Linked DNA regions of Homo sapiens: region 2 is linked to region 1. The links come from fine-mapping of genetic effects on gene expression. A gene starts in region 1. The other region holds a variant in brackets. All regions are shown on one strand. Distances are between the middles of the regions.

Evidence for each region. PIP is the estimated chance that this variant, and not a neighbour inherited with it, causes the effect.
Region 2: its variant is the best candidate, but not a certain one, in a credible set for the expression of FXYD6 in blood mononuclear cells (TOPMed, PIP 0.58).

The regions. Positions count from the first base shown.
Region 1 is chr11:117,873,376-117,878,746 of GRCh38, reverse strand. FXYD6 (FXYD domain containing ion transport regulator 6) reads left to right here and starts at 2,089. Exons shown (of 8, transcript NM_022003.4): 1 at 2,089-2,155. FXYD6-FXYD2 (FXYD6-FXYD2 readthrough) reads left to right here and starts at 2,089. Exons shown (of 10, transcript NM_001243598.4): 1 at 2,089-2,155.
Region 2 is chr11:117,798,517-117,803,887 of GRCh38, reverse strand. It overlaps a transcript of DSCAML1 not described here. Among named protein-coding and RNA genes, the nearest start is that of DSCAML1, 4.0 kb to the right of the region's middle. The variant T/G (reference allele first, on the strand shown) is at 2,038.

The DNA of each region.
Region 1 (5,371 bases):
TAGAAGGGAGATGTGACTCACCCCAGAACAAGCTTGCGTGCTGCTTTGTAGCTGTAACACCCCAAATTCTTCCAGCAGTACCCTTGGATGGAACGTGATGAAGCACTATTTGAGAGTTAAGCCATGGCGGTTTCTCATGCACATTTAGTTCCTGTTATCCCTCTGCAGCCTGGGCTGGTCAGCATTAGGTAGGGGGACCTGGGAAGTCACTGGGCCAAACACTTCAGAACTCTCTGGCTGGAAATGGGGTTGAACCAGAAGGTGGCTTGGCTTTGGAGTTCTGAACTATCCTTTCCCAAATAGGCTTGCAAAGCCTGGGCTTGACGTGTCATCACTAGTAGGTGCTCTAAAAAGCACAGAGAGATGGCCAAAAGGCAGGATTCAAGGGCATTTGGAGGGATGAATGTACCTGCCTAAGGACATGGGCCTAGAAAGGGATGTGGTTTTAAATCTGCCACCTAGAATACATGAAAAGGGAAAACGACAGTTGGAATGCTGTCCTCAGTTTATAGAGGAAAAGACAGGAACGGCAAAGGGTTAGGCACGCAAATAGGCAAGATTTGAGTCTGGCTTTGGAGAAGGAGCTTTAGCATTCACAGGAACCCCAGGGAGTTCAGGACTGGGCCAGAGTGGCATCCATTCAGCCAGGTCCCATGATTAAGGGGCCAGAACTATCCCCTGAGGGGAGGCTTTTTGGGTGCTCTTTCTCAGTAGCTATTTATGGTTCCCCTACTGGTTCCAAAGTCTTCTTGAGTTCATGTATATTTCCTGCCTTGGGGTTTTGAGACCTGACCTTTTATTAAAATAATTAGATCATCTAGGGCAGAGCTGGAAGAGACCTCAGGATCATCTAGTCCATCTCCCTATTTTCCCAAATGAGAAAACAGGCCCAGAACTGAGGGCAGCAGAGGCAGGGCTAGGTTTCTTCCTAGCAGTACCCATCATCCCCGGCTTGGGGTTTGTAAGGAACTCTCCGTGGCCCTACCTAGGCTTGGACAATCACAGCCTTTCTCAGTAGCTCCTCCCTCCACCCGGCTCGGCCATACACACACCTTGACTGAGGCTGGACAGCCTCCATCTCAGCATGGCTCCTGGCTACTGACACTTGTGCCTGGCCTCTGCCCCTTCCTACAAGCTCTGCCCCTAATAGTAAGAGCCAATTTCTTGAGCACTCACTATGAGCTAAGCCTCCCATGGGGTCAGTCTCTAATCACCATTTTCCCACGTGAGGAAATAGACTCAGGAGCTGAGTGCAGAGATATGCTCCAAGTCGCGTCACAGGCAGGGTTGCCGAGCCAGGATTTATTTACATCTTCACATTCAAAGTTCGTCATCATGAATTTTGACTCTTGGGGACTGGGCTGAGGACGGGGTGGTACTGCTCCTGGCAGGGCCAGAGGTGGATGGGGCTTGAAAAGGGGGTTCAAGGCAGCAGATCTATGGTTCAGGTAAGGACCATCCCCCCAGCTCCCCACCTGGCTCTAGCTGAAAATGACAACTACAACTGGAGCTGGCTCCTGCGCCCACGACACAGCCATTCATGCTTTTGGTGCACATTCCCCTTAATTACCAAGGCTCCCAATTAACGTGGGCTGCTGTGTCTGGTGCTGGGTTATTTTCTCCTATTTTTCCGTTCCTCGGGGTTTACTATTGCAGAGAGACACCAGGTCTGTCATTGTGCCTGTCTTGCTCCCTTCCCACCCTAACCAGAGGGAAACCGAAAAGCAACAGCTGATGGCAAATCCGCTCCGGCGCTTGCACGCCTCCTCGGCGGCAGTCTCCTGTTGCTTCTCGGAGCTTGACTGCCCTTTGGAAAAATCTCTCCGCCCCTCGAGAGGAGAGAGGAGCAGAGGACGCGCGCGAGCACAGAGCGGGAGGACGGACAGGGAGAGGAGGAGAGGGGGTCTGCGCGCGGCCGCTACCCAGAAGCCAGCGGACGGCAGCACGGAGTGGGCTGTCCCCGAGCCCAGCCCCGAGCGAGCCCCCCCCCCGCCCCCGCAGGACGCGCCTCCCAGCCAGCCCGACTCCTAGGAGGAGGGGAGGCGGGAAAGCAGCTCAAGCCTCACCCACCGCCCTGCCCCCAGCCCCGCCACTCCCAGGCTCCTCGGGACTCGGCGGGTCCTCCTGGGAGTCTCGGAGGGGACCGGCTGTGCAGGTAGGCGGCTGGGGAGGTGGGCAAAGTTGGCTCCTTTTTCCGAGGAGGGGCGAGGCTCGGTGGGGACCGATCTCTGGAGCGCCGGGAGCGCCGGGTTTTGTGTGTTCAGTGGGTGTGTGCGGTCCTCCGCGGTCAGCTGCGCCGCGGTCCCCGCCTGGGCAGCGGGAAACCGGGCTGGGGATGTAAACAAGGAGATCGGCGTCGGAAGAGAGAGGAGCCTCTAGGGGAGGCAGGCTGTGGCGCTGGGGGTGACGCTGGTGGCTGGGAATTGCTCTCGGTGCTGCCTTGAGCTTGGGGTCAGGGTTTTCAGGAGAAGGGGAAAGGGCTGCGCCCACCCTTTATCCATGAGGAGTTTTCCCTTTGTTACTTGGAAGCTGTGGACACTTGGTGGAGCGTGGGGAATTACGGACGAGGGCGTGTGGCTGGGTGTGAGTGTGGACTTATGAGCGACACAAAATGGAACTTGCTGGTTTGGTGCTTGGGGAAGGTGGGGCTGGGCAGTGGGCACAGGATGGGGGCGCAGGGAAAGAAGGATTCTAGCGCTCGGGGATTCATGAGAGTGCATCATTTTTTCCCTCCTTCTTGTCTTATCCATCCAATCCTGTTTCCTTTCCGGGGGGCCCTGGGGTCCGCCATTGCCCCCTTTCCCCAGCAGGGCTGGCCCTGGCAGAGCCTCCCCTATTGTGTCTCCCGGGCTTCCGTGGAGAGTTGGGTGTGCAGCCTGGAGCTCCCAGCGCTGGCTTCTGGCTCTTACAAGTGGTGGCTGGTAGAGGAGGCACCCGAGGGTGGGAGCTGGGAGCAGCCTCGCTGGAAACATGGGTCTGCCGCGTCACCTGCTGCAAGCCTGCACGCTCGCGGGACCGTGGCTACTGGAGGCTTCTCCCCACCAGTGTGCTCTCTGCCACTACTTCCTTTGTCTCTGTGGCTTCGTGCTGTCTGGCTGGGCTAAGATTTCCAGCTTTGAAGATGGATCAGTGGGCATCTCAGGCCCTCTCTGAAAGGAGCCCCCTTTGGGGATCCAGCCACCCTCATATTATGGATGTGTATGTCTACGTCCGCAACTTAGCCTTTTGCACGTGACTTGCCTGGTCGTTGCCATGGAAACTCCTCCATTTCTCAGCCTCCCTCTTTCTCCTGCCCATTCCTCACCTCCATATCTCCTCCCCTCCCCCCAGTATGGTTGCCTAGATACTGGTTATCCCTGGCTAGGAGACCTAGATATCTGGCTCCTACACCCAATTGCAGTGGCCCCTTACTCACACCACCCACTTCACACACACTGCACATCACCAACACCACAAACACATACAGACATATACCACACTACGCAATCAACACACCCTCACACTCACACCACACATACATATACATCATACCTATACACACATACACACCAAACACACCGCATATATACCGCACCACCACACACCAGCTACAATGCTACACTGACACCCTACATGCGCACTGTGCATGCACACACACACACACAGTACATCTAAATAAGTCTCAGGCTGGGCTGAGGCAGGGGAGAGAGAGGGCAGTTTCCTTCCTTATCCAGCCACCTCCCTAGGGGTGTGGAGGGGAAGAGATGGAGGCTCAGGAAGCCCAGAAGGAAAACCCTAACATCTCCCTGGGAACCCTGCAGAGGAAGGTGGAGGGAAAGGCACTGCCAGATTCCCTCAAAAGAGGAGCCCCTTCCCTAAACCTGGAAGGGAAGGTTGGATAAAGAGTGGGCGCAGCCCTTTTCCCTCCTCCTCAAAGCCCCAGTCCGGAGCTCCAGGTGTTAACGAGAGCCATTCCCAGGTGCTGGGCTCCAGAAGCTGGGCACTGACCAGAATTTCAATCTCTCCACTGCCGCTGCTCTTTTCCCTGACCCAGAGAAAGCCTGAGGCTCTGGGAGTCATCCTCACCAGCAGAGGATCAGGCCAGCTCTGGGACCATCGGAGGCTCTGAGCCCTAACAAAGGAGAGAAGGAAAAGTGGTTACTGTCCCAGGAAAGCCAAGGAGGCCAGGCCAGGGAGGCAGGAAGGGGAGGGAAACCAGAAAGAGGGAAGGAGAGGGGCCACAGGAGTCAAGAAAGCGAAAGTTAGGGCTACCCGCCGTTGCCTGGGGTTCAGGCCACCCTCTCTTCCTGGCACGTTTTCCTGCTTCCCCCCTGGCTCCTCCAAACAGATCTGTGCATCTAGGAGAGGAAGCGGGTGTGCAAAGGGCTCTAGGCTTGCCAGGGTTCTCCCAAGACGTGTGGCTTCTATGGTTGACAGACGGTAGGCGCCTGGGGGAAGCGTTTCCTTCCTGGCTTCCATCGGATCTTCAGACTGACCTGAGGACCGATTTCATTCAATCATTCAAAGAACTGTTTTAAGTGTCTACTGTGTATTAATTGCTGGGGACATGAAGGTGAGGAGGGAGACACAATCCCTGACATCGGAATCCTAGGTTTCTCAGAGCCGGAAGAGGCCTTGAGGGAGCATCCAGTGGGAACACAGTGGGGGAAACTGAGGCTCAGCAGTCACGTGGCCAGTAGTCGCTGAGGCCTTCTAACTCCTCGGCCAGGATTTTGGCCTTCACACTGCCTGTCCTGCAACCCTTGCTTTCTTTTCTCAGTCACCATCAGAGATGGTGGGTTGATGGAAACCTATGGAGGGAGAGCCTTTGGTCGGCTGGTGACTGGGACGCCCTTCCAAAGTGAGGGTCCCTTAGTGGGCGGGTACAACCGAGGAGCCTGCTTCACTATGTTTTCTTGGAAGGCGAGGCTGGAAGCTGTGGCAAGGAGATGGGGGAGAAAGGGCAGTTTCCTAGACCCTGGAAATTTCCCGACAGCCTCGGGGGAGTCCACCCACCGAAATCTCCCCTAAATAAGAGCACCTCCTCTCTTCCTCCCAACCTTGTTGGACTTAGTCGGCCGCCATCTGGATGGCAGACTGTGCCAGGCAGCCCCCCAATATTCACCTTCGAACAAATCACCTTCTGAGCACCCTAAGGGAAGCAAACCAGTCAAGAAAGGCACAGCCCCAAGGAGGCAGGGAGCCTGCTGTGGAAAGGCCGGGTTCTAGCCCCAGCTCTCCCCCTGAGCTTCCGTGCTACCGAAAGGCAAATGCGTTCATTGCACAAATATCCCTTTGGATGCAAACTGGGCTTCTGGTGAAATCCAGAAATGGCTTGGACTGCTCTTCAGCAACTGAAAGCCTTTCGGATTTTAGACCTTTGTTTCCGCAT
Region 2 (5,371 bases), 75 kb after region 1:
AAATGGGCAGACTTTCTAGGAAGAGAACTTTCATCATCTAAGTCAAGGTCACCACCATGGGCCTGGGCCTTGACTTTCTCTTCTCTGGGGAGGAAAATCTCTCCAAGGGGGCTTCTGTGTGAACAGCACTGTACAAATACATGATTGACATACAGACTTAAGACCTCTGAGGCAAGCGGGGAGCCCTGACCAGAATCCAGAGAACCTGGTCCCCAGCCACAGTGTAACCCAAGGAAAGTTCCTGGGACGGATTCAGGTTTTGCAGGGCTGGAAGCTTAGACCATTGAGGGCTGGAAGCTTAGGCCTCACTAAGGAAAACAATACACAATTATGAATACAAAATTAGATACAAATATGATCATTAATATATTAATAATCAAATGTGATTATTAATTTAGAAAGATAAAAAGAAATTGCAACAAGTTACAAATCTTGAAAAAACTGACAAATGCCATCATGAAATCCAGACAGATAACATAATATTTGTATTAACTGACACACCTCAAAAATGCTTTCTAAATTAAAAAAAATTTTTTTACGTTACTTCTGCTCACAGCTTTACATAAGCTGGCTTTTGGCTCCATGCATTTCAAACCTTGTCTTTCCTATGCTACACACACACCCCTGGTGCAGGCACCTGAGGCCACAGTTATACTGTGATACAACTTCTGGTTCTGCAACTTCATGTCACAAAGCGCAGTGAGCTGGCCCAGTCGGTGATAGGAGTGTTCCTGCAAGCCATTCCCTATCCTGGAAGTACGTGCATGGCCTGTGAACCATATAAATACATTCCACCAATCCCAAGCCAGAGTCAGATCCCCCCAAAATGTTCACCAGACCCACCGAGAAGCCAGAGCAGAAAAGGGTAGCAGCTGTGATTGACAGTAGTTAAACTCTATTATTCTACAGTGTTTTCATATCTGACCATGTGAACACATTACTAGGGCCCTAAAGGAATCTGAAGCTTGAGCTGTGTAAGTGTCATGGTATTAAACATCCCAAATATGCCTCTGGGACTCCTCTGACTTTGTGTCTTCATCTATATAATGATCAAAACAATTCTGGCATATGTATCCAGATCCTTTTAGGTGAGAATCAGAAATGGACGAAAACATAAAGCCTCTGGAACCTAGAGGCGCTGCCTACAAGGTCAAGATGACAACTGTGAAGACCACAGTGATGCGGGCTCAGCAGGAACTGCTGAGACTTCTTTGGTTTTAGGGGTCAGCACTCCTGCGGGGTCTAATGTCCTGCCAAATGCTCACTCTTAGAGACGAGAAACTCCAATACGAGAACTTTCAAGCTTAAGGCTTTGATCCTAGTTAAGGGACATCTCTCTGGAAGGCATGGCACGTGAGGCTGTAATCAGATATCTGCTACCTTATAAGAATGAGCCCATCTGGTCATTAAATCAACACTTACTGAGTGTACCCCTAGAGCCAGGAGGCACCAGGCTAGGGCCTGCAGGTACAAATCGAAAGGGTCGGAGCCCAGTGTCTAGAAGAGGAGACAAGTCAGACACATGCCTAAATAGCCACAATTCTAGACAAAGGGATGAGACCCATGGGCCAAGTAGATGTCTGAGGCAGTGGGAGACCAGAGGAGGCCTGGTCAGGGAAAACTGGGGGTGCCTGACCAGGCCCTGCTGAATGGGAAGCCTTAAACAGGTGAAAAAGGGGGGCACTGGGTACTTGAGAAAGGTGAAGGTTTTCCAGTGTAGAAGACACTTTCATAAAATTTGATAAGCACATTTGTGAGTGACACATGGGCCAGAAGAAATGCCGGAAGACTTGGGAAGCCAGCAAGTTTAGCTCTGCTCATTGCACTTTCTTTTTTTTCCTATCTCTCTTAGTTTCCATACCTTCCACCCCACTGCTCCCCAGAGAGAAATGTGACAATGAGCTTCAGCTCTGTCGAATCCGGACTACATGGAACCTCTCTGGGTTGGCTTCTCAACCGATTTCAGAGTTGTGAGCTGAGAAAGAACAGCAGGAGAGAGGCCACAGTTATTCAGGGGACTCCTGCCTTGCTGGGGGC[T/G]TCCGCAGCCCCTGACCAACCATCCTGGTGTCACTGCTGAGACAGCAGCCTGAACAAGGGCAATGGGACCCCAGAGACTGCATCTGTACAGGCGGAGCCCCAGGGCTTTAGACCCTTTGCTCCAGTGATCTTAGAGCCATAATATTATCATCCAAAATGATGAGAGAGTAAGTGGCAAGCATACCTAGACATCTTCTGAGCCCAGCAGACAGAATTTTGGTTTAAGGAGAACCTGGGTAGTATAATGACACATAATATTTTTTTATATATAGGCATCACAGTCTATGAATTGTACTGATTCATCTCATCTCAAGAAGATGGTATTTTAGATGTATGTGTATATATTTGAAGCCAAAACTGTTTATTTTGTGTAATTTTTTGTGCCTATTAGTTTCTGAATATCTGTGCATAAAAGCTTCTGTTTCTCTGCCTGCACACATTTGTGGGTACACACTATACACCTATGTGGGGTAGGAGGGGGGAATGGGCATATTTGTTTGCATTTACCTTGTGTTTGGTCCTAGGAAGGGATCTTGGTGATCATTCCAGCCCAGCTCTTTCACCTCAATGGTGAAGAAACTGAGGTCCAGAAAGGCAAGGTGACTTGTCACAGGTAACACAGCTGGCTATGGAGACAGAGGTGACACAAGAACCTAGGATTTCTGATTTGTAGATGAGAACTCTTTCTATAATATTAAAATCAATTATAAATTTTGGGGAGGGAAGCAGGGAGATCCTTGTTTTTTCCTCCCCCAACTGATAAGTAAGTACTAAGAAGGTCAATCTTGAATTAGCTATATAATACCAAAAGTTAAGTTTTTCACACAGACCTGGTTCAGTATTGATTCCTTTTATGAAAACCCTGTTTATACTCAAGTTGTCAAAGAATTCCAGAGGGCATATGAAGCCATTGTTAAAATAATTTTATGCCTTTGTTTTTGAAGAAAAGTATCCAAAATATATAAGCTTATTGTTTGAGTTAAACAATAAAAACATCTGCTGTTTCTCAGGATGGCTCTAGTCTTAATATAACATGGCAAAATAATACCCCCTAAATATCCATGATTAACCTGAATTGGAGAGGGCTCAGCTCCCAGTGACTTCATATAGCTGCTTCAACTGGCATTGTTTAAAAAAAACAAAAACAAAAGCACAAAAGCCAAAATACAGACAGATCATCACCCAGCATTCTGATGCAAGAAAATATTAAAACTGATCACTGCTTTTAAATGGGTAGTGTGTCCCTACTAGAAAGGAATCCCACAAATTTGAGGCTTAAAAAAATGGAGCATATGCATAGGTGCCAATGCAGAATTTCTGGATTGGGTTCAAATCACATTGAAGCACAGGTGTGCCTGTCATTAGGTGTTTATGTTTACCTGTACACATGAATGTTTGCCTGGGCAACTGTGTTTGTTCTCACTCTGGCATGAATATATTTGTGTGTGGGTGTGAAGTTTTCCATATAATTTTGGGAACTGTCCCTTCTATCAAAATATAGCCCCTCTAAAATGTCAGCTGGGGAGGGGACTGTCAGGGTTTAAGGTGGGCGTGGGGTAGAACACGCCGCCTGACTCTCTTCCCCGGCGTTTCATTTTTCCCTTGGGATTTCCTGGCATGCTGGCTTGCCCACCCCAATACAACTCCTGTCGAAGAGGAGACTTCTAAATACATCTGAGCCAACCTGTCATTTTCAAAGACATTTCCCTAGATACTAAGGAAGAACAAAATCAATGGGAAACACAAAAAGCATGAGGCCTGACCTGCCTGTTTTTCAGGTCCTTCTTTTGTTAGCCATCTCTCCAGGCTCTTCCGCCTCAGTGTGCACCTTCCGTGTTTCTGCAGCCCCTTTCCTGGATTCCCAGCTCCTTGGCTCTGGCTTTGTCACAGCATGGAAGGCACAATATCGTCCCAGCATTCCCCCAGTGGAGCTGTTCCCTCCTCCCAGTTCCCACAGGTCAAGGTCCTTGTGAGCAAAGCTGTTCCCATTCATGGTAGTTACCTGTGCTCACTATGCGTCAGCCATGGGGCTTGTCTTATTTAATCCTCGCTACGACTTTCCAAGGCAGATGCTGGGGATGTCCCCATTCCACTGGTAAGGAAACTGCAGCTTGGCACACATACATTTCCCAGGCACACAGCTGGCAAGTGGCAGAGCTGGGCTGAGGACTCATCTCCTGCTGTTTCCAAAGCCAGGCTCTTAACCATGACATTAGAAAGCTTCCTTTTGCCAGAGGGGGTCCCCAGGTCTGCTCTCCCCAACTGACCACCCGTTTATTTCCACGTATATGTCTCCTCCCGGGACAGCCAGACTGCAGTCACCGGCACAATGAATGACCTCGCCCTTCGGGTAACACACATGTTGTGGTTCTTTAAAGCCCCCTGTGTATAACTAGCATAAAGCCTCCTACACTCAGGTTGTAGGAGGTACTTGGGGTGGATGCAAAGAAGAGGGTCCACCGCTACTTCCAGCGTGTGAGGCACGGAGCAGCTGTGCCGCTACCCCAGGCCCACTCAGATCCCCTCCCAGCAGACAGCAGCCCCTTTCATCCTGTCTGCCTTAGCGGTTTATTTTAGGCATGACCTGACCAGGTGCTCTGGGTCAATAGGCTTAGTTTTAAATAACTGGATTCCTCTCAATGACCGTTCCCTTTAGAAGGGAGGGGGCATGGTAGAAGAATAAGCCAGCAGGCTGAGGGCGGTGAGAGATGGGAGCTAAGACAGAAGACTGGAAACGTGAGGGCTCTGTCACTCCCTGCGTGACCTCGGGGAAGGCTCATGGCTTCCCCACTCTGGGCCTCAGTTTCCTTATCTGTAAAGCAAAAGATCGGTCTGGGTCATCTCAAACACCCCCTGCAGTCTGTCCCCCCGTCTCTGTTCTATGCCTGTGTTTCCAGATGACAAAACACCTCCTGCAAATTGTTTCAGGGTGGTGATTTTGCATGAAGAGCTGAGCCACCGAGGGATGCTGCAGCTTATAGAGCAAGCTCTGCTCTGGAGTCGGGAGGCCTGGGTTCTAGTCTTGCTTCTGATACAACCTTGGTGGCCTTGAACAAGTTAAGCCCCGATTTTCTCACCCGTTTAAAGGACGAACCTTGAAAACATTATGCTGAGTGAAGTAAGCCAAGCACAAAAGGATACATACTTTATGATCTCACTTATGAGGTACCTAGAATAAGCAACTTCATAGAGACAAAGTAGAATAGTGGTTGCCAGGAGCTGGGGGAGGGGAGGGGAAGGGGGAGTTATTATTTAATGGGTGCAGGATTCTGTTTGGGATGATGAAAAAGTTTTGGAAATGGTAAGTGATGATGGTTGCACATCGTGAATGTAT